Regions from separate parts of the Homo sapiens genome. Here regions 1, 3, 4 and 5 are each linked to region 2. Evidence: fine-mapped expression QTL. A gene starts in region 2. Each other region holds a variant in brackets. All regions are shown on one strand. Distances are from middle to middle.

Region 1 (5,108 bases), 84 kb before region 2:
CAGTTAAATTAGTCTGATGACTATGAACTTGAGGAGGTTTGGTTTTACACTTGTTTAAAGTGAGTTTGTTTCTGCTTTGCCCTTAGTCTTAGGGGGAATTCTTAGTTTAAGGACACTGTCTTTACTTGTAAAGTATGACACACAGAGTTTCATTAAAAATCTCAAGGCATTTATTTATGAAGCCCTATACTCGGTCTCCCCTGTGATGGACAGGATTCAAACTCCACATGCTGCCTCTGCTGTGGGGTGCAGCAGCTGAAATCTTCAGCCTTCCTGCTGTTACTTTCCAGCAGGTTCCTTGGAGTCTTCTTTAAGCACACACAATTCATGGGTCAGCTAAGGATTCGAGAATAATTTAAATGCAGTTACTTTCCAGCTTGTGGTTCTCTCCTTTCCAGGAGTTACCTTATTAATTTCCAGTTACTGTCCCATCCTCAACTGCATCCTGACACCTCAAGCTGACAAGACCACGGTGATCTGCTTGAGTTCCAGTCACTCCACGTTGCACAGACTGGCAAGAATCTTCAGAGAACTGGTAGGAAACAAGCCTATCTCACGAAGTGTGGTTCCTTCTTTCAGGGGTGGAATACTCTCCAGTTTTTGCCAGTTTTTTATTACTCTCCAGAGCCTTCAAATATCTTTTCCAAACTTAATAGCTCTTGTTTATGGGAGGTCTAGTCCCATTCAAACTAGGGAATCCCTAGTTTGGTTTTAAAATATCTTATCCAAACTTAATAGCTCTTGTTTATGGGAGGTCTAGTCCCATTCAAACTAGGGAATCCCTTAATAAACTTTTAGTCCACTAAACATTTAAGATTCATGAAGGCAAAGGCTGGGAGAGGTGGCTCACGCCGTAATCCCAGAACTTTGGGAGGCTGAGGTGGGTGGATCACCTGAGGTCAGAAGTTCGAGACCAACCTGGCCAACAAGGTGAAACCCTATCTCTACTAAAAATACAAAAATTAGTTGGGCGTGGTTTTTAATTTTAGTCTTGATGAAGTCTAATTTTTTATTTTTGCTTTATGTTTAGTGCATTTAGTGTCCTCTCTAAGCTATCTTGGTGTTTCCAAAGATCCCAAAGATGTTCAACTATTTTTTAAGCATTTCAGAGTTTTAGTTTTTACACACCTGTAATCCCAGCTACTCGGGAGGCTGAGGCGGGAGAACTGCTTGAACCCGGGAGGCAAAGGTTGCAGTGAGCCAAGATGGCGCCACTGCACTCCAGCCTGGGTGACAAAGCGAGACTGTGTCTCTCAAAAAAAAAAAAAAAAAAAAAAAAAAAAAAGATTCATGAAGGCAGAAACCTTGTTTAGAATAAGAAACAATAAATATCTGTTCATGTATACCCTATTTTAGTTTGCTAATTCATTTAGGATTTTTAAATAAGTAAAATTACTTTTTGGTTTTTTAAATGCTTCATAGTACTTTGTGTAATAAAAGCACTGTTGACATATTTGTGCTCTGTGCCTATTTAGAATATATTGAGTCAGGGAGAGAGTTTCAATTTCTTGATGTTTTTTGGTTTAATCAGTGTTTCTTAAACTTTTGACCATTTAAATTTTCTTAGAAATTGATCTTATGTTGATAGTAAAATTTATTACTACAAAGCTCTGTACACAGTACTTTCATACAATTTAAAGACATTTTTTCCTATCTGTGATCTTTAAGTTTGCTTTAGACTGCTTAAAACAAACATATAATTAGCAAATAAAGGTTTTCTCTTCCTTCCTATTTTCTTTATATCACTGATTTCTATCTGTTGCACTGTTGCATTCACTAAGAATTCTACTATAACCAGTAAAAGCACACATTTTTGTCTTGGTCCTTGGTGCTATAATTAACTTTGACATTAAATTTGCTTTTGAAAATTTTTAAACAGACACCCTTTACCAGGTTAAGGAAATTCCTTTTCTATTCATTTAGTAAAACTTGCCTATAAAACTAGTTCTAGAGTCTTAATTTGAATGCTGATTCAATTTCTTCAATGGCTACTGATTTCATCCGTTTTCTAATTCTTCTTGAATCAATTTTAGTAATATAAATTTTCTAAAAAATAATCCAATTCATCTACTTGTATAAAAGTATTAACATAAAACTGCTTATAATATTCTCTTATGACATTAAAAATTTTGTTTATAACTACAGACACTTTTGCTCTTTTTATCTTCTCTTTTTCTTCAGTTTTGCTTTGAGTTTTATCTATTTTCCTGAGTTTTTCAGAAAGTCAGCTTTTTGTTTTATTGAATTTTATTGCGTATTTTCCTGGTCTTTACTGCTACTTTAAAATTTACCCTCTAATTCTTTTCCTTAACTCTTGAGTTAAATGCTGAGCTTATTTATTTTCTAATTTTTAAATCAATGCATTAAAGTTGTAAACTTTTCTAAGTATTCTTTCAATGTATTCTAACAGTTTTAATATGTATTACTTTCACTATGGTTATTTAAAAAATATTTGGTCCCATTGTGATTTCCTCTTTAATTCAGGAGTTATTTAGGAATATATTTCTAAACATACAGGTTTATTTTTTTCTTTTATTTTAATTGCATTGTGGTAAGAAAACACAATCTGAATGATGTACAGTCTTTGAAATGTATTAAGAGTTCCTTTGTGATGTGAAACATAATCAATTTTTATAAATGTTCCACATGTCTTTGAAAAGAATGTGTATTCTTTGTTGAAATAAGTATTAAAGGTGTGTTAAAAATCTCCCACTGCAACTGTGGATTGGTCAAATTTGCCGGGCAATTCTCCACATTTTGCTTTGCATGTATTTTAGGCTATGTAATTAAGTAAATGAAATTTACTGCTGGTTTATTTTCCTGGTAGAATACCCCAATTGTTACTAGTATTTTGTGCCTTAAGCTCAATTACAATGGATGTTAATCTTCCTACACTAGCTTTCTCTTGATGAGTAGCTCCAAAACTAACCTTTTCTATCTCGTTTTGTTTTTGTTTATTTTTAAGACTAAGTCTCATT[C/G]TTCCACCCAAGCTGGAGTGCAGTGGTGCATTCATGGCTCACTGCAGCCTCAACCTCCTGGGCTCCGGTAATCCTCCCACCTCAGCCTCCTGAGTAGCTGGGACCACAGGCAACGTGCCATCATGCCCAGCTAGTTTTTTGTATTTTTTGTAAAGACAGGGTTTCACCACCTTGCCCAGGCTGGTGTCGAATTCCTGAGCCTACCTTGGCCTTCCAAAATGCTAGGATTACAGGCACGAGCCACAGCATCTGGCCCATCTCCTTGTTTTTAGACATTCTGTATTAGTTTTGTTTTAGATGTGTTACAACCTTTCTACTTGGGAGAGAGTTCTCATTTTCCTTCTTTCCTTTTTTTTTTTTTTTTTTTTTTTGAGACAGGGTTTCACTCTGTTGCCTAGGCTGGAGCACAGTGGCATGATCTTGGCTCTGTAACCTCCACCTCCTGGGTTCAAGCAGTTATCATGCCTCAGCCTCCTGAGTAGCTAGGATTATAGGCGCGTGCCACCATGCCCAGCTAATTTTTGTATTTTTAGTAGAGATGAGGTTTCGCTATGTTGGCCAGGCTGGTCTCAAACTCCTGACCTCAAGTGATCTGCCTGCCTCAGCCTCCCAAAGTGCTGGGATTACAGGCGTGAGCCACCACATCTAGCTTCCTGTCTTTTTTGAATATATTTTTAAAGTTCCTTTTCCTCTGTTAACTGCTCAATATTACTCCTATTTTTAATCAGTGGCTACCTTTTGATATTTTAACTGAAATGCTGAAACACACTTTTTTTCTAACAAAGTCCAAGTAAGAATATTCGGTGTTTCTCCTGTCCCCTCAAAAATCACAAATAGGGTAGAAACAATTTAAAGCTTTATTTTCACTAACCTTTTACTAAAATTTAGCATTTCCTACACTTATAAACAACAAACCATGACAGTATTTATAGCACTGGCCACTCCACCACTATTCAAAATTAGAGATATTTTTATGTTACATTTCAGTTTTTACAGATATCTAAAAATACTATTTACACGTAAAATTTTTTCTTTGAAATTAACCACTTGATTTTGCTAATGTGTTCATAAATAAGCATATATTACATTACAAATATTAAAAAATATCTGATAGCTGTACTTTAACATAATTGGTTCCCTTTGTAATGCTATGTATTTTTTTTAATGAATTTAAACACATTATTCTGGGAAAGAATACATAGGTTTTACCAGAATACTAGGTGGCCGTGGCATAAAGAAAGTTAAGAAATAATTCCTGACAGAATACATCTTAAAATGCCTGGAGTAAATTTGAGTTCCAACTTAATTTTGTTTGGCTGTTTTTCTCAGCATTCAATTTTTTCACACATTCTGGAATTTTGGTTTACAGGTTTATTTTATGGAAGTTTTTTGGTTTTCTCTCTTTTTTTTAATCCTCTCTTCTTCTATGTTCCCCTACTTGGGTCTACATTCCAGAACAAGTCTTAAATGATGGTTCAGAGTATTACAGATCCTTTCATGGAGTCAGCAGGTGACATAGTTATTCATGTTTGTTAGGTTATGCCCTCTCAGCTCTCTAAGCTCTCAGCCCCATATAAATTCAGGCTGTGGTTGGTGGAAGATTTTTCAGCCTCCTGTCTGGAGCAAAATTGCCCGTCCCTAGTCCTTGGCTTCAAGCAGGGTGCTGGTATTCAATCCTCTCTTCCCCATGGATAAGGTGGCCTTTGTTGATTATAGTGGGTTCCAAGGGAGAGGAATGAAGTAAAAATGCCTTTATTTCACCATCTTAAGCAAGTTTTATACAGACAGTTCTCAGTATTGTTTTTACTCCGTAACTTTAGTTTCCCTCTTCTATCCAGATTTTAAAAAATCATGTTTCTAATTCCATTTTACTAAGAATTTAAAATTTTTATTTTAAATTCAGGAATGAATGCTGATTTTCTTTTTTACCAAGATGCTTCAAAGCATCTGTGTACACTAGATAATCATATACTTTTTCTTTTGACTTGTTTACATGGTAAGTTAATTTAATATTTCCTAATACTGACTCATTTGTATGTCTAAAAGAGCTACATTTAATTATGCATATGATTCTTTTGAATCATTTAAGATTATGCAATGATAATCATATGTAAAACTTGTCTTTGTGTA
Region 2 (5,108 bases):
GAGTCACTCTGTGAAGAATTAATATTGGAGTTCCCTAAATATTGGCCAATCAACCTGCTTTTCTTTGTTAACAGTGATTGTGAATATTCAGTTTCATTAACAGAGCTAATTATTTTTGAAGCCTTTTAAAACACACACACACTTTTTACTGTATAGAGGACAGTTTCATAAATTACAGCTAGTATCTGTTCTAACAGGCTCAAGGCGACAGCTATTTCTCAGGATGCATCCACCACCCATTACAACTACTATATATTCTAAGTTACTCAATTCCCACTATTGTTATAGAACCACATCCACCCCATACTATTGTTACAGCCCTTTTTCACTATTATAAACCCACATATGGTTAGAGACAGAAGAGGACAAAAAACATGCAGCCATAAAGAGGATTTCTCAGTTCCAGGGTGAAGGGTTCCCTTTAATCTCTGCTGATATAGTTTAATGTTCTGCCTGGTTCACTACCTCCTTTTTTTTTTTACACTTTGAAACCTGCTGTGGCTTGAGACATCAACCTTTGGCATAATCACCTGCTGGTTTTATAATCTGCGGCCCACACTGTTGGAAAAAGGAGTTTCAGTCTTTGCTTACTAACAATTTGTGTTCCTCACTGAACACAAATTCCAAAAAGATAAAAGCTTTGATAGGCACCTACCAGAAAGTCACTTTGTGTACAAGTACTAAAGAATGCACCAAAACAAATTGAGGGGTTCACAGCCTCTTATCCCTCGAGGCAAAAGACTTCTAGTTCAAACACTGATGACACAGGTTTTAATGAAAGAAGAGCCCATTTATTTATCTATTCTGATCGGACATCACAGAAATTCAATGCTTATTATAGTAGAGGACAAAGCTGGACAATCCTAATCACCCTAAATTAAAGATACCTCTCAATTTCTTCTCTCTCCTGGGCCATTACACCAAACCTAGAGCAGAACTATACCCACCTTCAGGGCAGAAGAAACAACGTAATAGCTTATTGATCTCTGGTGTAGACCCAAACCCACAAGTCATCAGGCAAGCAGGGATTACAGCCACTTGATGCAGCTAACAATCAAAAGTCGTGTACTGGGTTTTTGGTCCCACACAAGCACACCTCTGGCAATTACCCCTACATAAAAAATGGACCAAACTACTCTCCTCACCAAAACAAACAAAAATACTACTAATCAGGTACGGGAGCAACACATCCTTAATTGTACCAAAAAGAATTTCTTGGCTGTCAGTAAATGCCCAATTACGTTCATTAATTCTTCATTTAGCGTCACTTGCCAGGTTTCAAAAGCCACCATCACATTCAATTCCGTAGATAAATGCCTTCAAAAGAGATAACACTTGCTGACAAATTGGCTGTTGACTAAACCTCACCACCACCACCATTATACTAGTCAAATCAATGTTTGTGGCAAATGAATTAGACTTTTTATAAGTAAAATTTACCAAAGTAATGATATCTTCTAATTCTTTTTCTGGAGAAATCAGAGCAACACTCCAAAAAGGAAAGGTTAAAACTGAGCTCTCTGAAATACCTATTCAGTGTGTTTAACTGATGAACTAAGAACGGTGAAGTCAGAAGTGTAACTTAATTATCTTAAGAGATAGATGTTCTTTGCAATTAATTCCATTCAGCTCTTGCTCAGACCCCAACGCAATATAAAGCTGTCCGCACAGTCTTCAGCCTTCTCTTAACCCGAAAGGAGTTATCTCTAACCCGATCCATCGACTGGAATAAAGTAACAGTGACCACAGCGGCGGACGAGGATGGATGAAATTACAATTGAACTAGGAGTCAGGACAGATGTGTACACCCTAACAGGAGAGACTGAGGTGGGGCTGGAAACTATTTTCTGGCCTTCTCCCGCGTGCTGCTCCCGGGGAACCAACAGGACCCTGCACGCCCGGATTCGGCAGAGCCCTTGCCCCCGAGGTGGAGTGGGGAGAAGTCAGCGGGAAGCCTTTTCAGGGAATCGAGTAGGACAAGGGCTGGCGCGGTGGGAATCTCGCCGGTGAGAGAACTTCCTAACCCCGGGTTGAGGGGGCGGGGGGAAGGACCGTCCCGGCAGCGGCGGGGGCGAGCTCCTCTGCTTTCTCACAGTCAAGCATCTTTGTGTGTGGATTGTGCCAGGCTACGGGTCCTGGAGCAACTGGCCGCGGGGGCCCTCGAACCCAGGTCGGGAAGTCCGCCCGCCACCCCCTCGCTCCGCCGGGGCCCTCCCGGCCGGGCCCCCCAGCCCCTCTCCACCACCCGAGGGTCTGGAGGTGGACGAGTGGAGAAAAGCATCTCCGTGTGGGGACACCCGTTCCGCCACATCCACCCCCTCACCGGTCTTTGTCCCGCCGGTAGCCAGGGTCTCCGCGGGAGTCTCCAGGGGAACCCCCGTCCTGGAGGCCTCGGGGCCCGGGTCGCCTCAGCTTTGTTCGGTCAGCGGGGCGCGGGGACGCGGACACTTACCGTACACCCCAGCGAGGAAAAGCAAGAGCAACGCAGACCTCCACCGCGGAGACTCTTTTGTGCTCCAGCGACAGGCCATAACCACAGCAGATGGAGAGAGAGAGGAGGAGACGGAGGAGGAGGGAGGAGAAGCTGGAGGTAGACGACGCCGACGCCGCCGCCGCCGCCGCCGCCGCCGCCGAGCCACCGGCTGCTCCCTGCGCTCTCCGCGGCTGCGGGAGGGGGAAGGGAGGGGCCGCCGCCGCCCGCGCGCGCTCCCTCCTCCCTCCTCCCTCCGGCTCGCCTGCTCCCACCCCGGGCGGTGCGAGAGCCCCACGCGGGGCGGCCCTCCTGGGGGCAAGGGCAAGGAGCTCGCGCGCCAGCGCGAGACGAGAGGGTGGCGGACGCCGGACTCCGGCCTCGCGCCGCTCGGGCTAGCCGGCGCCGCCACTCGCCAGACTGAGCGCGCGCCCATCCGTGCGATCGGCAATCCCCTGGCCCGCCTGCCTCGGTTCCCTCCCCGCGCTCCGCTGGACTTTCCAAGTTTCGGGCCGATTTCCACGCGACGGGAGCCCAAGGAGCAAGGCAGCGCCAATCGATGACAGAGCGTGCGAACGCCGGCTGCTGGATGCCCAGGGGCTGGAGCGCGGGGTGTGTGGAGGAGCACGGTCGCTGTCCGAGGGCTGGGCTCTGGCCCAGCGGGTGGGGGGAGGGGGGGTGGGATACCAGCTGGGAGGCTGAAGGTGGTTCCGTGTTGGGGGAGGCGTGGATGGTCTGAAGCTGACAACTTGGGAGTTCCTTCCTCTATCCGGTACCCCCAAGTCTCCACTTGCTGTCGGCGCGGAGCTTCGAGTGGGGGTGGGCTCAAGTTAGTGCGGCCAACCTGGCAGCTGGTCGGTCAAGGGGCAGTGTGGACTCCCACGCTCAAGGTGCCCGGAATGAGTCGGGCAAGGCTTGTGCAGAGCCCCTCCAGTCTGGCGTGGAAGCGCCAAGAGGTCATTTGACATCTCACGCTGGGTCGGGTGCAGCTGGGCCAGGATGTTCGGCAGGGCTGGAGCCGACTTTCAGGGTAGATATATTGAAAGGAGGATTCGCCCATCACGCTGCAGTTTCCCTAAAGCTCTTTTCTCACTCCCAGCAAATGGGAGTCCTCCTTTACTTAGATCCCCAGAACACTTTTCTAAGTACGTCTGTAGTGACGCTGGCACATCAGACCTTACCCCCTGTGTTTTTAAAGCGTTTGTCTACAACGTCTTATTTATATTAGATTTTATCGTTGCCCTTTGCAAGCACTCTCCATGCTATTCATTGAAGACCTACACTGCATCATGCTGTCCTATTGACATAGGTTGTCACTTTTTAATCCCAAACATCCTTGTGAGATAAATATTACCCATGTTTTATAGAAAAGAGAGAAATTAAATTACTCATGGCAAGTAAGTTGTTTGAAACAGTTTTTCTCATTCCAAAGTAAAGATTGTTGCCCCTATACCACAGCAAACTCTCTAGCACAATGCTTAGCGCCTAGTAATGTGTCGGAGTTGGTGCCTGCCAGGGGGTTCGTGGTCTCCCTGACTTCAAGAATGAAGCTGCAGACCTTCCCGGTGACTGTTAACAGCTCTTAAAGATGGCACGGACTCAAAGAGTGAGCGGTAGCAAGGTTTATTGCGAAGAGCAAAAGGACAGCTTCCACAGCATGGAAGAGAACCCCAGGTGCTGGCTGGTGGTGGCCAGCTTTTATTCCCTTGTGGTCCCCTCCCATGTTCCATTTCTGTCCTATCGGAGTGCCCCTCTTTCAATCCTCCCTGCGATTGGCTACTTTTGGAATCCTGCTGATTGGTGCGTTTTACAGAGTGCTGATTGGTGCATTTTACAGAGCGCTGATTGGTGCATTTTACAATCCTCTTGTAAGACAGGAAAGTTCCTCAAGTCCCCACTGGACCCAGGAAGTTCAGCTGGCCTCACCTCTCAGTAAGTAAATGTTAAAATTTAAAACATACTTTCTGGGGAATACATTTAGGCTTTTCCTCAGTCTCCTGCCGATTTGCCCCCTTTTAAGTTTTTTTTTTTAAAACCAGGAAATGCTATTCCAAAAGATAAGAGAAAAATGTATTAATAAGTATTACAAAAATCTAATAATTAACAAATCTTATATCATCTGGTAAAAAAAGCAACCAGCACTCCAAAAATGTTTTCCATTCTTGTTGGAAAGAAGCAACTTCAGTGTTTTTCACTAAACAAATTGCAGTTGTCTTTCCTAATTTTGGGATTCTAAACTCTACTTTCTTGTTTCTTAAGATTGCTTTCTCTAAATTGCGCTTCCATGAGAGCTGTGTTAAGAACAGGCCACAAGCAGAGTGAAGGAGTAGACTGGACTGCATCCTCCCCTGTCCACTTTTAGTACCATTCAAGGAATCCTGTCCCGAACACGAGACACACAGTGCCCTCATCAGTTCCTGTCACACCCCTCCCACCCCTACACTTGCTCATCCACCCAGATGTGTCTTCTCAGACTTGCCAGGTTATCAAACTTTTGGGTATCTGGACCCCCCATAACACTTACAATTTGGTGAGGACACCAAAGAACTTTTATTTATGTGGGTCATAGCTATTGATATTTAGCATTTAGAAATTAAAATAGAAAAAAAAGAATTTATTTTAAATTCATTTAAAATAA
Region 3 (5,108 bases), 75 kb after region 2:
GCCAATTTCCATTTACAGTTGTTGAATGTTAAACAGCATTGGAGAATGTTAAGTTGTTAGATAACTGACTAGTTTTCTCAAACCTCCTCTGGTAATTAACCATGCCTCCTACTCCCTTTGCCACACTCCAAAGGGAATATGCTAATCCACTATTAGCTTTACAGCAATGGCTTAATATTCCATTTCAAGAACTTGTGCACAAGCATTGTGTAAATTGATTTCATTCCATTGGGAATTCACACCCAGAAGCACTGCCCTGACATGAGAGTAGGAGTGAAGAGGACCTCACAACTCTCCCAGCTATAGGGCCCTGCATGATACATGGTACATGAAAAGGGATCAGTGCATGTTTGTGGACTGAATGAAAAAATAACCACTGTAATTCTCTACTATAATGTTTTTGCTCACAAAACATCCAAATTGATTTAATCCAAAGGAGATGGAAAGTAATGCTGTGTGTGGGAAAACATGAATTCAGGCCTGTTAGTTTTTCTAGTAAGGTTCCTTGATGTGCCTTTCAGGAACAAGGCCTATGGGACTCTGTGACTCAGGAACACAGTACTTTTCCTGATGGCAAGGCAGCATCAAGATCCTCTGGGGCTTGCATTCATTCCTCTGGAGGCTGGATGTCACTCTTTTTTATTCTCCCATTCCTTCCTCACCTTGTAATACTCATCTGTTTTGCTTTTTTTTTTTTTTCCTAGGCAGACTCTTGCTCTGTCGCCCAGGCTGGAGTGCAGTGGCACGATCTCAGCTCACCGCAACCTCTGCCTCCTGGGTTCAAGTGACTCTTGTGCCTCAGCCTCCCGAGTAGCTGGGATTACAGGCGTACACTACCAGGCTCAACTAATTTTTTGTATGTTTAGTAGAGACAGAGTTTCACTATGTTGGCCAGGCTGGTCTTGAACTCCTGGCCTCAAGTGATCTGCCCTCCTCAGCCTCCCAAAGTGCTGGGATTACAGGAGTGAGCCACTGTGCCTGGCCTGCTTTGCTTTTTCTTATTTGGTTCTATGGTTCTTATATTTTTGTTAGTGCAAAGATCTCACATATTTAAACTTTTATGAAAAAAATCCTACACAGCTACATTAAAAAACATCACTCTGAATCTCTCTCATGTCTATTCAAAGTCACACAGATTTGCCATTTTTTTTTCAGGTGGATTGGAAGCATATGCTCTGTAGATGGTTCTGTGTCTATGGTCTCTTTTAGTCCTCACTACAAGTCATGAAACAATTCTGAGGCATTGTTATTTCCATTTGATGGATGAGGATACAGAGGCTTAAAGAGGTAAAAGTCATTTTCACTTAAGGATAGTATCTTGGTCTTGAACAGAGATGGCAGGAAATAGAAGCAGACAGGCAGGATGCTATGTCTGGACAAAATACTTTAGAAGTGGACATACCTTTATGGTTAATCTTCCTCTTATGATGCAAGAGGTTTCGTTGTGAATATGTTAAAAAATGCATTTATTTTACAGTCTTAATATCTCTGAGACACTCCAGGGTCTTGTGTACTAGCTTTTATGTAATACGATCTTTTAATGACTGCCTCCCTTACTTCCTATGTCACCACTTACTTTCTAAAGTATTTTAAGTCCCAGCTCAGATGTTACCCCTCAGAGATGCCTTCTAAGATTACTCTGGACCCTCCAATCACTCTCTATCCCAATGTCCCATTTCATTTCTTTCATAACTTCTTTTGCTGTTGAAAAATCATATTTTTTATTGTGTGTATCTCTACTGGGAATGGGAGCTGCCTAGGAGAATGGTCCTTGTTTGTCTTACTTGCCTCTCCATCCCCAGTCCTTAGAATAGTGCCTGGATAAATTATTGCATATGCTTCAAGATGCATACTAAGGTAAATGGCATGACTCTGATCCTTAAATACTGAGGGATTGGCAAGGGCAAGGCACTGGTGTGGCCCAGTCACAGACAGATGGAAGATGAATGGCAGTACTTCCTTTCTTTGCCAGCCGTTGGATTGTTCTGGCTGAGTGCACTAAGGTGGGTATAATTATCTCTTATGGCCTGCCCAAACAAGTGCCCAAATCCCAGTATAAAGCGATCTTTATCTAGGTCTCTATAGGCATTGACTGGGTTGTTTGAAGCCAAAGCAGCCTCAGTACATACTCATAACTCCTGGGACATTAAATAGA[T/C]CCTAACTAATCCTAGGGATTTCTGTTTCAATATAGGATATGTGTAGATTGCTTTGAAAATGACCAAACTCCTGGATCCCTGCAAATGACTGTACGTAGTGATTCAGATAAAACCCTATTCTTCACCAGGTGCTATGAGAATTGCTTTAATACCACTTAATTTCATCTTTAAACACATATACGATTATTAGAGACATATACTATTATTATCCCCATTTTTAGATGAGGAATCTGAAGCTTAGAGAGAGTAAATGACTTGCCTAGGTCCCACTGCTAGTTGAGGAGGGGTACAAACCTAGCTGACTCTTCTCAAAATTGATACTTACTGCCTAATTGGCAAAGATCTGATGTCCCATTCTGCTGTGGCCTAAAACCTTTAAGAAAATTATGTTTATCAGCTATGAATGAATGCTCACAGTTCGAGGATGGGCCTAAGAGACATTGGCAGACACTTGGTTTAGAAGTTAACAAATAAGTCAAATGAAATCATAATTTTTAAGTCCTTAAAAATAGAAGTCTTATGCAAATCAATTTTTGAAAATTGGCTATATTAATTGATTTGAACTATATATGTACTCTGGAAACAGACAGACTTGAGTTCAAAGCCCAGCAGTTACTTAATGCTATGTAACCTTCAATAAGTTTCTTATTCTTTTTAGATTGAATATGGATTCCAATACCTATCTCACAAAATTTATGCAAGGAGAGCAGCCAGTTCAGTGCTTGGAGCACATAGAAGGGGGAACAAAACATTATTTTCTTTCCTTTAAGTATTATGGTTGGGAATTTTTTGGTTGTGAAGTTTTGTTTTCCTAAATTTCATGTTCTCCCAGTCATGTTAAAATTTTATGTCTATTCATTTCATTTCTTTCCTCAAGTATAGTTTAAAGATCACAATTCATTTCTTAAGACTTGTGCATCATTGCTCTGGTAAATCTCTTGGTCTTCATAGTAGTTGATAAGGTTTACTTTTCTTCTTCATTGAATCCTCCCACACCTCATCCCTGACCAGAGTGTTTCTTTTTGGCTTTCATTTTACCTCTGTTTATCATTCATGAACGTATGCCACAGCTTCTTTTGACATTATACTTAAAAAGTCCCCCCAAAGCATGCTTTTTAAAAGTTGGGGCACAGCGACCTTGCGAGAACATTCTTCTTGAAGGGGTAGTATTAGACCCTGACCAAATGATATCACCTTAAAAAGCTGGATTTTTTTAAAAGTCATTTTTTATGGTCATTGTCTAGAAACACTTGTGGTAAGAAGTAAAAATTCAAGCATGAAGTAGCTTAGTCATGACCTATATCAGCAGCAAAAACAAGGGCCATTAACTTGATTGGAACATATGAATCTGAAAGTGCAGCTATTCAAATAAAAATAGCCAGCTCTATGAGTCCAAGCAGGGCAAAAAACTACCTCCAACAGGAGAGAGACAATGTAAAGGCAATAAAATGTAAATTGTCTATAATATTGCTCTCAGAATAATGTCAATTTGTTTACACTTGACAGGCTACATTTAATAAACTTATCCACAATTTTTGTTCTGTTTATAAGACAAAACAAGCTGGATAGCTTGCATATTTGTCACAGACATTTCAGGGCATATGTGCAAAATTATAATAAACATACTCTTTTTGCAAACTCCTACTATTACTTTGTTCCTGAAAGCTCTGGGCTGCCAGGCTATTTTTGCATTGCCTAAGTCACTCCAAGGCGAGCCAGGTGCCATGGTGCACACCTGTAGTTCTAGCTACTCAGGAGGCTGAGGCAGGAGGATTGCTTGAGCACAGGAATTCGAGATCAGCCTGAGCAACATGGTGAGACCCCACCTCTACAAAAAGATAAAACAAAAAAACCCAAAAACTTACCAGGGTGCAAAAAGGCTGCCATCAGTGCTAGAACCCTAGTACTACAATCCTTCTGACTCCATACTGTCTAAAGGTAGATTACTCAGTTTTCTCTCTGTATTCTTGTCTTAGGTGCTATTGTGCTTAGAGTTGACTGTGAGGCAAGCCTCTGCATCTGTACAGGAATAGAACTACGATACCAAAAAGTACTTCTGATCTCCTTTTATTGGTTGTGAATAAGCACTAGTATCCTCATTTTACAGATGAAGAAACTAAATCTCAAAGGTGCTAAGTAAGTTACTGAGAGATGCTGAGTCACACTGATACTAAGTGAGTCATGCTGTTAGTGGGATTGTGAGTAGCAGTCACACTATCTGTAAGTTGCAAACTAACTGGACTCAGGGTGACCAATTTTCCCAGTTTGCTTAGGACGGAGGGGTTTCCTGGGAAGCAGGACTTTCCATACTAAAACTAGGACAGTCCCAGGCAAACCAGGATGGTTGGTAACCCTAGATGTCTGATTTTAGAAACACTACACTCTTTATCTTTCTGCTTCAGGCTCTAAAATATTTGGCTCTCCTTAAAATCTTTTGCCGTCATATCCTGCTGTAATCTTCACCCACCCACCACTTCTTCTGCTAGTTTAGTCGGCAGACTGTGCTTACCATTGCATTTGCTGTGAGACTCTTACTACAAATTGCAGCCCATTTACCCTCTTTTCTGGGCCACAGGAAATCGCGGGCTGACAACTCAGTGTCTATGTGGTTTTCTGAGCCTTTAGCTCTATTGGATTTCTAGCCAGAAAATTATTATTCTTCCTTTTTGGTGACAACTATGTTAAAAAGAAAAACTCAACAATTCTCTTGATTTCAAAGATGACAAGGTCTATAAAGAGGGAAAAAGCTAAAGACCTCTGGGCATTGAAATTCTTCCATCCAGATACTCTGATGCTATAATGATGGTTCCTGTTAACCATCAAATCATCTGTCAGGGATGCCTCAGCTGCACTTGGCAATTTCTCTCAGCAGAGGAGCATCCTGATGGTGAAAGGCTCCTGGCACCTGCTCTTATTGGCCTTGCTCTTCTTAGCAAGAATCCTCCCTTTAGG
Region 4 (5,108 bases), 33 kb after region 2:
CAGTATCACAAGAGTAGTAAGAGCAGAATCTTGACGGCAGTTCACTGAAGAGGCAATAATGGAAGAAAGACTAGTCTTTGGATGAGCTTGCTGAGAAGAGATGGAGATAGCTAGTGGAGAATTAAAAGCCAATGAGTGTGTATTTTGAAATAGGAAGCTAAGCTTGTTTAAGCTTTTGAGAAGGAGCCTATGGAGAGGGCAAGATGTTGAAAAACAGGAGAAAGAAGAAATAACATTTAAAGTAAAGTACTTGAGGACATGGGAGGAAATGGATTCAGGAACCCAGGTGGAGAGGCTAGCTTAGAACAAGAAAGATACTTCTTCCTTTGAAACTTGGTGGAAGGAGGTGAGATTTGGCATAACCGCAGTTCTGCCAAGCACGCTCCAAAACATCCTTCAAACATTCTCTTCCTTATGTTTTATTAGGACAGATGAAATCATTTGAATGTTTTCTTCAGGTTTTCATTCTTCCTCTGATATTTAATCAAACATGGGTGCTTGTTTATTAGTTGTGTTTTCATGTTTTTGATTTTTTTGAAGATGCAGTCTTTCTGGTACAAGCATTTGCAAATTAAGAGTTATTAAATCCGTAAGAGCTGAAAAACCCTGATTGCCAGCCTTAATTACCAGCTTTAATTCTCTCGGTTGTGTGAATGTTGATGTCACAAGGCAAATTCCAAATGTTTGCTTACAGAAGTTCTTCTGACACAGTGTTTAAGAACTGCAAAAACTGAAGCTACTGTCCTTATGTAATATCCTCTGAAGTTTCCCTGAAAATAAAACCTTTAGTTTCTGGTTACCTACAGCCTGTCTCTCCTTTCTTTCCTGCGTCTCTCCCTTCCTACCTGCATCTTGTTCTTGTCTTCCTTCCTCCCAGCATTTTATTCAGTGCCACCATGCGCCAGGCCTGGGAAACATAGGAGAATGTTAATATTGGAAATAAATAAAGACAGTATCCCTGGCAATTACCAACATTAAAGGACCAGGGAGGAGGGGGATCTGGCTGTAGAAGGAGTGGCAATATTAGTAGCACGGGACTGAAGAGAGTCATTCTGTTAACCAAAGGAAGAATTATTTCAAGCAGAGAGATAACAGTGTAGCAATGGACCACCAGACATGGCTGTGTCCTTTTGGAGGTTGTATTCCAGTGGAGGAGATGGAGAATAAATATATATATATATATAAATATAAATATAAACACAATGATTATAATTTGTGTTGTAAAGTGCTGTAAAATAAAGATAATTCTGTGGTAGAGAATGAGGTACATGTAAGGGGTCAGGCTTCTTTAGATAAGGTGGCCAGGGGATATTTCTCTAAGGAACATTTACTATCCAAGCAGAAGATGAAGAAGCAACTATGCAAAGAATAAGGAAAGAGTCTTCTTAGAAAAGGGAACAGGTCTGGCAGGGTCTAGGAATTATAGAGAGGCCAGTGTGGCTGCATCCCAGGGAGCAATGGGTTGAATAGGCTAAGAGAAAATGTTTTGTGGGGCCTTGCAGAGTTTGGGTTATATTCCAAATGCTCTGGGAAGTAAATGATTTTTTTTTCTTACATAGGAACTGACATAAATCTACATATACTTTTAAAAGAGTACTTGACTGCTGGATGAAGAGTAGATTGGAGAGGGACACATAAGAAGCAGAGAGATCAGTCAGATATTGAATGGATTAGTCCAGGTGAGACATGATGGTGGCTCAAACTAGGGTAGTGGCAGAGGAGACAGAGACAGTGGAGAGTATTCTAAGTATATTTTGGAGGTAGAAATGACTGATGGACTGAAGGCAGAAGGATTGTGAATGTGGGTAAGGAAAGGATCAGGGTTGACTTGTATGTTTCTGGCTTGTGAAACTGCCCCTTACCATGATTGGGAACATCAGGAAAAGAAGAGTTTTGGGAGGTGTGGATGGAGAAGAAGCAAAAGATCTGTACTGGATTTGTTAAATCTGAGATACCTATGAAACATCCAAATGGAGATATCAAATAAGCAGTTGGATATATATGTCTGTTTCCTGGATCTTTTAAATATAAATTTGGATGTCACAAAAAATAGAAAGTATTTGAAGGTACAGGAATGGCTTGGGGAAAAGTGTACAAAAAAAGAAAAGAGAAGCTCTGGGACATTTAGAGGTCAAGTATTGGAGAAGGAGTATTGGAGAAGGAGAAGGAGATAGTGACCGAAAAGAAATAGTCAGTGAGACAGGAGGAAACTAAGCCAAAGCCAGAAGAGTATGTCAAGAAAAAGAAGTACCTTTCTATGTGGAAAGGTGAGAGAAGTTGCTTAAGATGAGGGAAGAAAA[A/G]TGCCCACTGAATTTTCAACACAAAGATTGTTGGTGAACTTGACAAAAATAGTTTCCATGGAATATGTAAGCCATATTGGAGTAGGTTGATAAACACTATAACACTTCTTATTTTAGAATTCAAATTCAAATTATTTTGAAAAGACAAATGAATTCTAAAATAAGAATTCAAATGAATGAGAGCTAACTCACAAATATGTAAACACATGATTTTACCATTTTAGGAATATTCCTAGGAGCTAATAATGTCCTTGTGGTTTTCACATAGATCTCTTCTCTGACTACAGCCAGCTCTCAACTTTTTCACTAAATTCAGATTCAGTACTAGTTATGTTTTATGAATGACTTAAGTAAATTGACTAATAATATTGGCTGTCGATAACAAATCAAGTAGAATGATCTTCCCTTTGAACATACAGATTAAAATATAAGTTTCCATGAGAACAGAAGTAGAATGTAAGATTAATATGGGCGAATTCAGAAGATATTGAAATCCGTATCTCTAGCCCTTACTCTTACATGTGAGTATCAGACACATACTTCTACCTTGAATCCCCTGCCTGAATGACCCAGAATCAACTCAAATTCAACACAGTCTACCATGGAAATTATTACATGATTCCTTAAATTGCTCATCTTTCTCATGCAATTGACCAAACTAGGAACTAGAAAATGATCCTAGATTTCGCACTGTGCTCCACTTATTACAAATCACAGATTTCTCCCTTTCTATGTTGTAAATAATTCAATAAAGCAATATAAACATTGCCAATTTCTTATTTTATACCCTCATCATTTCTTGCTTTAATTGTGGCAGCAGCAATCTCCCAACTCGTACTGCTACCATAAGTCTTAACCCTCTTCAATCAGCTTTCTATATAGCCACCAACGTAATGTTTTAAAAACACTAATGTGCAACATGGAGACTATGTTTGACCTTGACAAGTATAGTTTTAGTGAAGTGGTAGCAACAAGAGCCACAAAGTACTGGGTTGATGAATTGTCTTACTCTGTTTCTTTAGAGTCTGATATGACTCTCATTGGCAATAACATAGAGACCAAATGCATTTAAGTTTTATACTCTATCTCCAATTTATTTTTCAAGACTTGATTCCCTGCTCTGTATCTTATCTTTTCTACATTTGTGTGTAGTGAAATTCTACACTTTTGCTATGCTGGAGTAGTTTTTTTTCCCAGAACATTTTATGTTTTCTCACACCCTCATGTTACCTTTTCCTGAAATGCCCTCCATCCTTTTTCCATCTTATTCTTTAGGGTGCAGTTTAAATACCATCTCTGTTGACATCTGCCATAGTATATTGTTGCAATTTTCATGTCATTGCGTTGTCATTACAGGAGATACCAGCTGCTATTTTAAAGTAAGAAAAGCAGGGTTGGGGGAGGGATTCCTGTGGTTTCTACTCTGCCTTACTCTTAAGATAAAAACTTTGCTAACCCCATTTGAAGGAAGCGAGTCGTTATCTCAGGGTCCCATTGCAGTTGTTTATTTGTCTACTTCCCTTGCAATATCTGAGCTTCTTAATGGCAGGGTCAGGGTCTTATTAATTTTTGTATTCCCAGCACTTAGCTCATAGAAGATACACACAGATGTAGAATAAATAACATTTAAATGAATACATAGGTGATCCCTAAGGATTAGCCTTGTTCATGCATGGCAAGGGATAAAAAGGAGGCAAGTAGATCAATGAATTCTAATAAGCATTGTTGTGCTGTTGTATTTTGAAAGATACAGCAAAGTGTCTAATAATATGAGGAAGTGATGGTTTCTCACACTAGTCAAATTTCACTATTGACCTAGTTTTTGCTGAAGTGCACATGTGGTTTTAGGGCTCACGAGTCAAGTATAGCTCAGCAGTTTTAAAGACTTGAAGAAGAGGCTTGTAAAAGACTGTGTCTATTCAGCTTACTATGGGAATAATCATTCTCTTAATTATATATTTTAAGGTCTTTTAAAACAGACACCACTTAGAAATGTGTGTGTGTGTTGGTGGGGGTGGAGTTTTAGCAAAGCTTTTATTCACCAAAAGAAGACTGGCTGTGTAGTATTCCTGGTGTATATGCACCATATTTTCTTTATCCATTTCAGAACTGATGGGCACCTGGGTTGATTCCATGTCTCTGCTACTGTGAATAGGGCTGTAATGAACAAATGGCTCATGTGTCTTTTGGTAGAATGACTTATTTTCCTTTGGGTATATATCCAGTAATGGGATTGCTGGATTGAATGGTAGTTCAACTCTTAGCTCTTTGGGAAATCTCCAAACTGCTCTCAACAGTGGTTGGACTAATTTAAATTCTCACAAGCACTGTATAAGTATTTCCCTTTACAGCCTCACCGGCATCTGCTGTTTTTAGATGTTTTGGACTTTTTTAAACCAAGGTCATGACCGTTATGAGCTGGTATCTCATTGCGGTTTTGATTTACATTTCTCTGATGATTAGTGATGATGAGCATTTTCTCATATAAACATGCAAAAAATATTGACTGAACCAGGAACTATATAAACTGACTAATAATATTGGTTATGATAAAAGCAAGAAATGATGAGGGTATGAAAGAAGAAATTGGCAATGTTATATTGCTTTATAGAATTATTTACAACATATAAAGGAGATAAATCTGTGATTTTTTAAAAAAAGAAGGATAGTAAGAAACCTAGAATCATTCTATATTTGGCTGCTTGTATGTCTTCTTTTGAGAAGTGTCTGTTCATGTCCGTTGCCCATCTTTTAATGGGGTCATACTATGCTGTCATAAAAAAGAATAAAATCTTGTCCTTTGCAGCA
Region 5 (5,108 bases), 70 kb before region 2:
ATTATATTTAAATCAATTATTTAAAAAATTGGCAGTGCTCAGCCTCTATTAAGAAGACACATGAAAGAGGGAGGATCACTTCAAAATAAAGTCAAGCTGTCTTACAATTTGAGATTTCATAGTTTCAAAACACCTAAAAAATTACAGAAAAAGTACATATTTACAATTAGAGCTGAACTACTGTCAAAGAAAAAGTATAATTTCCTGCTCCACAGATGAAGAACTGGGTTTTTTAAAACTGACAAGAGTTGATACTTCATGACAAAAAGTAGTTGAGACTAAAAGTTATGTGAAATCTTTGACTTTGATTTTAATAAATCACAAAACTGAAATGCAAGTAAATGTCTGTTTATGTTTACTGACCACCTAACTTTATAAGACACATATGAAGGGCACAAAAGAAATAGAGAACTCATGTTCTCATGGAAATTATAGTTTTATAACAATGACATATACTTTTTAACTGAATCCAAGAAGCATATAACAGTTAATATGACAGCATACCAGATAATACAGTACATGATTTAATGCATAACAAGTAACTTTAGGCAAAGTATCACATGTTCAGTTATAGACATGGTGTAATTAAACAGAAACAAAGGCCGACCAAAAACCTATATTATACAAGTATAGAACAGAGAAGGTTATGCTTGACTATGAACAAAAGATTTCTTTCATAGAAGAGAAGTTGGTAGAGCCACAGAAAAGCATACTCTAAACTAGTTAAAAGAATTTAATGACCCAAATTCTATAGACAGCAGTCAAGCCAAGACAGACCTACTACAAAAGGAAGTGATGTGATCCAAGTATTTTGTAAAGGTTATTGAGGGAAGAGAAACCAGTGAGGCAAAGAGATCACCTAAAAAGCAATTATAAAAACTCATCTTTTTGTACAATTTTACTTTATGAAAGTTTCACGACAGCAAAATCATGCTCACTCTGTTCATAAGCAAAGGATAATAGCATATATAGGTAACGGTGGTTAGTGTCATTTGGCCATCTCATTTTTCAGAGTACTGTATAGAGTGTATTATAAAGAATATTAATTCCATTATGGCTGATGAGTACAAAAGCAATTCCAAGTGTTGAAAACTAGTAAGAAGGATTTGATTCCAATGGAAATAAATGTACTTAAAGAAACCCACCATCTCCAAAATAAAAATTTGGTAAGCAAATGGTGTCTGGATTGAATGGCCATATGGGATGACAGTAAAAATTATTCTGAAAGTTAACAAGTGAATCATTCAATACATGGAAAATATTATGCTTATGCAAACAACTAAAGGCACCCAAACATGGAAAAAGCAGAGTATGTAGTTAGATGATTAGCATAAAAATCAGGTACCTCCTGGCCTACTGTTAATTTAGGAAAATAATAGCAGTTTGAAAACTTAAAAGGCTAAGTATGACACATAGTGCTGAGGATGAGATTTCTGCTTCAAGTCAGAAATATATGGTTTCCAAGTCCAAGAACTGTAAGTATCATTAAAGTGAAGCATGTATGCAGGCCTTGGATCCACAGCTGATGATAATGTTATAAAATTACCTAACACTTATTGAACTCTTATTACCTGGCAGGTACCTTAATACTTATTATTATTATCCCTATTTAACAGATAAGAAAAAAATGGAGGCACAGAGAAATTTGGTAATTTTTCTAAGGTCACAAAAAAGCTGTAAGTCTCAGAGCTGGGATGGAACCCAGACAAGAGGCTTCATAAAAGCTGTATTCTTAACCACTAAGGCAAACTGCTGCCCACTAACGAACTCCCTATAACATCTGGAAAAATTACCAGGGAGGTGGAAGGGAGCCGTTTCAATAGCATTTAAATGACAAAAGTGGTCTATTCTAGAAAAATGAACTATTGGTCCTACATTAACATGGATAGAAAGGGTAGATAATCTATAATAACACAGAGAAAATAAGTATAGTTAGTAGTTTTAAAGCTTCTAAAGATTGATTCCTTATTTGCTACACATTATCTAAGAACTACAGGCAGAACTGACCAGCTTCTTAGTATCTTTGGTATTAAAAATTTTATAAACAGCATTCTAGAACCTACTTTTAATGATAAGAGAACATATATACATATAGTTAATTATGGGTAAGATGCTTAGGGCAAGGAGTAGAATAGTAGCAATAAGGGGATGAAGTGGAGGCTGAGGGAGACATTTCAAAGGAAAGAGCAA[T/C]GGACAGATACTTAAAGACACTTAATAATGGACAGTCTGGAAAGCATGCATGTTCAGCATAGAGTCTATGGGCCACTGAGAATACAAGGCAAGTGACCAACTGTTGGAATCTGCAAGAAAAATAAGTTAGAGTACTATAGTTGCCCTTTGTTGGACTGCCATGTATAACATAACTAAGCCCTGTAACCTGAACAGGAAACACACGCCCACAGCTAGGCAGAAATTACTTTGATTCAAAAGTCCTCTTCCTGTATCTTGACTGTGTTTGTTGCCTAAATAGTGTCCTGATTTCTCTGACCCTCCAGACTCTTTAAATGGGGTTTTCTGACTCCTTGGCACCTGAGCCAAGCTGCGTTATAATGTGAATGTCAGAAGTCAACATTTTGAGGATGGACAGAGTTGGAAGGGGACAGAGATTGAACATGAGTAAGATTTCCTTAGAATTACTCCAAATTTCATTCTTTTTAAAAAAGAAGTTAGAAAACTGAACTTCTCCCTGTATGGGAATAATTACTAGCACTTGAACATAGGTTGAGTATCCCTAATCCAAAATGCTTGGGACCAAAAGTGTTTTGGATTTCAAAATTTGGAATATTTGCGCATACATACTGGTTGAACATCCCTAATCCAAAATCTGAAATGCTTCAATGAGTATTTCCTGTGAGCATCATGTCAGTGCTCTAAAAGATTCTGGAGCATTTCAAATTTCAGATTTTTAGATTAGGGATGCTCAACTTGTAGCAATATTTACTAGTCTAAGATGGGAAAGGTTTTAACTATGACTTGAAAGACAAGAATCAGGCAAGCAGAAAAAATGATATTAATCCATCACTCCCACTTAGGACTCTCATTACTCTGAGACTTATTATTAGAAACCGCAAGTGCCATGGCAAGTAGGAAATCTTATATCCAGCTGTTTATAATTTAAATATTCTTCTGCATTAGTACCGATATTTAAGACTGAATACAGCAATATATTTATTCATATTATTCTAAGTGACATTCTTTAAGGACCAAAATATTTTACTTGGCTATCAGCTGTAATCAAGGCAGGTAATTTCTTGGTATCTTGAAGGTCACTAATGTTCAGAACAATCAAACTATAATCAAGGGTTATATGGCAGTAAAATAAAATACAAAGTCAGAAGAGGCAAAAATATAAAGAGAGAAGGAGAAATAAAAAAAAAACGGGTCATAGCACAGTATGAATGAAGATGAGGAGAGCAAAGAAACTGAATATACCCACCTAAAATGGAACTAACTAGCCAGCTTCACCCTGAAATTTCTTAGTAAGAATAATTTAGGATTTTGCTAACAATGCATAACGTAAGATGAATAGAGAAGATTCATCCTTTTATGCCTTTTTTAAAGGGCTTATGAGGGCAATTTTTTTTTCCTGCAAGGGTATAAAAATTACTAACATGGTACCTACATTTTCCTATTTTAAGCACTACAGAAGACTAAAATGCTAAAGCAAGCTACTACTATTTCCCAAATGGGAAAAATTACTAATTTTTGAAGGTTACTGTGACTCTGGCTGGAAGCATAAAAAGGTAAGGCAGAAATCCTCACTTAAGCTAACAAACTGGCCTTGGAGCTCACGATTTTGTAGGTCATCTCTATCAGCTTTGACATAGTTTTTAGTATACTCACATCTTCTATGAGTGTTCCAGTTACTGTGTCTTTTGTCAAGGGTGGTACCCAGAAATAAACAATACCAGAGTACGTTTGCATGAAGAGTAAAGAAGAACTATCATTTGCTTGGTTCTGGATACTGTATTTCTATTACTGCAGTTTAATATCAAATCACCCCCTTACTTACATCAGGCTGTTAGTCAACTGATACCCAAGTACAGTTTGCTTATCCACCAAGTGACTGGCTTTTGCACAACAGTTTCACAGTACATCCAATTAAAATTCATGCCTTGGCAAAAATTACAGATAACCAACATGTTATCAACTTTGAAGAGTTATTCCCAAAGTTACAGACTGGAAAAGAAAATGTCAAATGCTTGAACAGAGCTTGCCTTTTTACGTTCACTAGGTTTGGCTCACTCAATGAAATGGATATATCCATCAGATGAACTTCACTTCTACCATCTAAGCACTGCATACCCTGTCACAATACAACCTGTTCTGTCTATAGTTCTGGTACTCACACGTGCTGTTCTAATGCTGGAGTTATTGTTTATTATAACATACAATGAGTATTCCTTATTCAAAATCCTTGGGACCAGAAGTATTTTGATTTTTTTTTCTTCAAATTCTGGAATATGTACAGATATATACTTACTAGTTGAGCATCCCAAAACCAAAAATCTGAAGTGTGAAATGCTCCAATGAGCATTTCCTTTGAGTGTTATGTCGTTGCTCAAAATGTTTTGGATTTTGGAGCATTTTGATTTTTGGATTTTCAGATTTGGGATAGTCAACCTGTAATGTAACATAAAAATATAACATAATTATTTTGTTATAAATACATAATTGTTCAATAAATATGTGATATATAATATAAAATAGGTTACAATTATATAATATAAAGATGTTTCATATAAGACATTGGCCATGATTCAATTATAGAGTATATAATATAGAAATAATAATACCACCATTAGTTTCATTTCCAAAACTTAAAGGGAGTTCGCTACTTTAAAACTTTAAGTGTCTCAGAAGTAAACTCTGAAGGTAGACAATGACTTTAAAAATTATTAGCATCCTATAGTAATGTTTTTATATATATATATATCAAGAATTTACTCTGTCTCATATTCCCTACTCATTTTCTTTATATAAAGGATAGCTTCTTGGGTTCAAACTATGTTCTGTTTTTATATTCTGAAATCCTAAAAACCCTAATGTATTAATAATCAACTAAAATGTAATAAGGCTTCTTTCTTTTCTTCATCTGAAACATGGAT

Alleles and levels. Alleles are on the strand shown, and positions count from the first base shown. SD is a standard deviation of normalised expression in the study named. Not every link is listed here.
For the expression in esophagus mucosa of the gene that starts at base 2,892 in region 2, C is the high allele of the variant in region 3 and T is the other (moderate effect, 0.45 SD a copy in GTEx).

Evidence for each region. PIP is the estimated chance that this variant, and not a neighbour inherited with it, causes the effect.
Region 1: its variant is the best candidate, but not a certain one, in a credible set for the expression of LRP12 in blood mononuclear cells (TOPMed, PIP 0.90).
Region 3: its variant is the best candidate, but not a certain one, in a credible set for the expression of LRP12 in esophagus mucosa (GTEx, PIP 0.52).
Region 4: its variant is the best candidate, but not a certain one, in a credible set for the expression of LRP12 in whole blood (TOPMed, PIP 0.72).
Region 5: its variant is the best candidate, but not a certain one, in a credible set for the expression of LRP12 in monocytes (TOPMed, PIP 0.64).

Annotation. Positions count from the first base shown.
Region 1 is chr8:104,502,074-104,507,181 of GRCh38, forward strand. The region is part of intron 3 of LRP12 (LDL receptor related protein 12); the gene reads right to left. Among named protein-coding and RNA genes, the nearest start is that of MIR548A3, 20 kb to the left of the region's middle. The variant C/G (reference allele first, on the strand shown) is at 2,979.
Region 2 is chr8:104,586,367-104,591,474 of GRCh38, forward strand. It overlaps LRP12 (LDL receptor related protein 12), which reads right to left and starts at 2,892. Exons shown (of 7, transcript NM_013437.5): 1 at 2,453-2,892. The coding sequence starts at 2,531. RefSeq lists silencers at 2,051-2,160, 2,591-2,930.
Region 3 is chr8:104,661,079-104,666,186 of GRCh38, forward strand. No RefSeq gene overlaps it. Among named protein-coding and RNA genes, the nearest start is that of LRP12, 74 kb to the left of the region's middle. RefSeq lists enhancers at 3,723-4,922, 4,549-4,598. The variant T/C (reference allele first, on the strand shown) is at 2,156.
Region 4 is chr8:104,618,998-104,624,105 of GRCh38, forward strand. No RefSeq gene overlaps it. Among named protein-coding and RNA genes, the nearest start is that of LRP12, 32 kb to the left of the region's middle. The variant A/G (reference allele first, on the strand shown) is at 2,301.
Region 5 is chr8:104,516,691-104,521,798 of GRCh38, forward strand. The region is part of intron 2 of LRP12 (LDL receptor related protein 12); the gene reads right to left. Among named protein-coding and RNA genes, the nearest start is that of MIR548A3, 35 kb to the left of the region's middle. The variant T/C (reference allele first, on the strand shown) is at 2,191.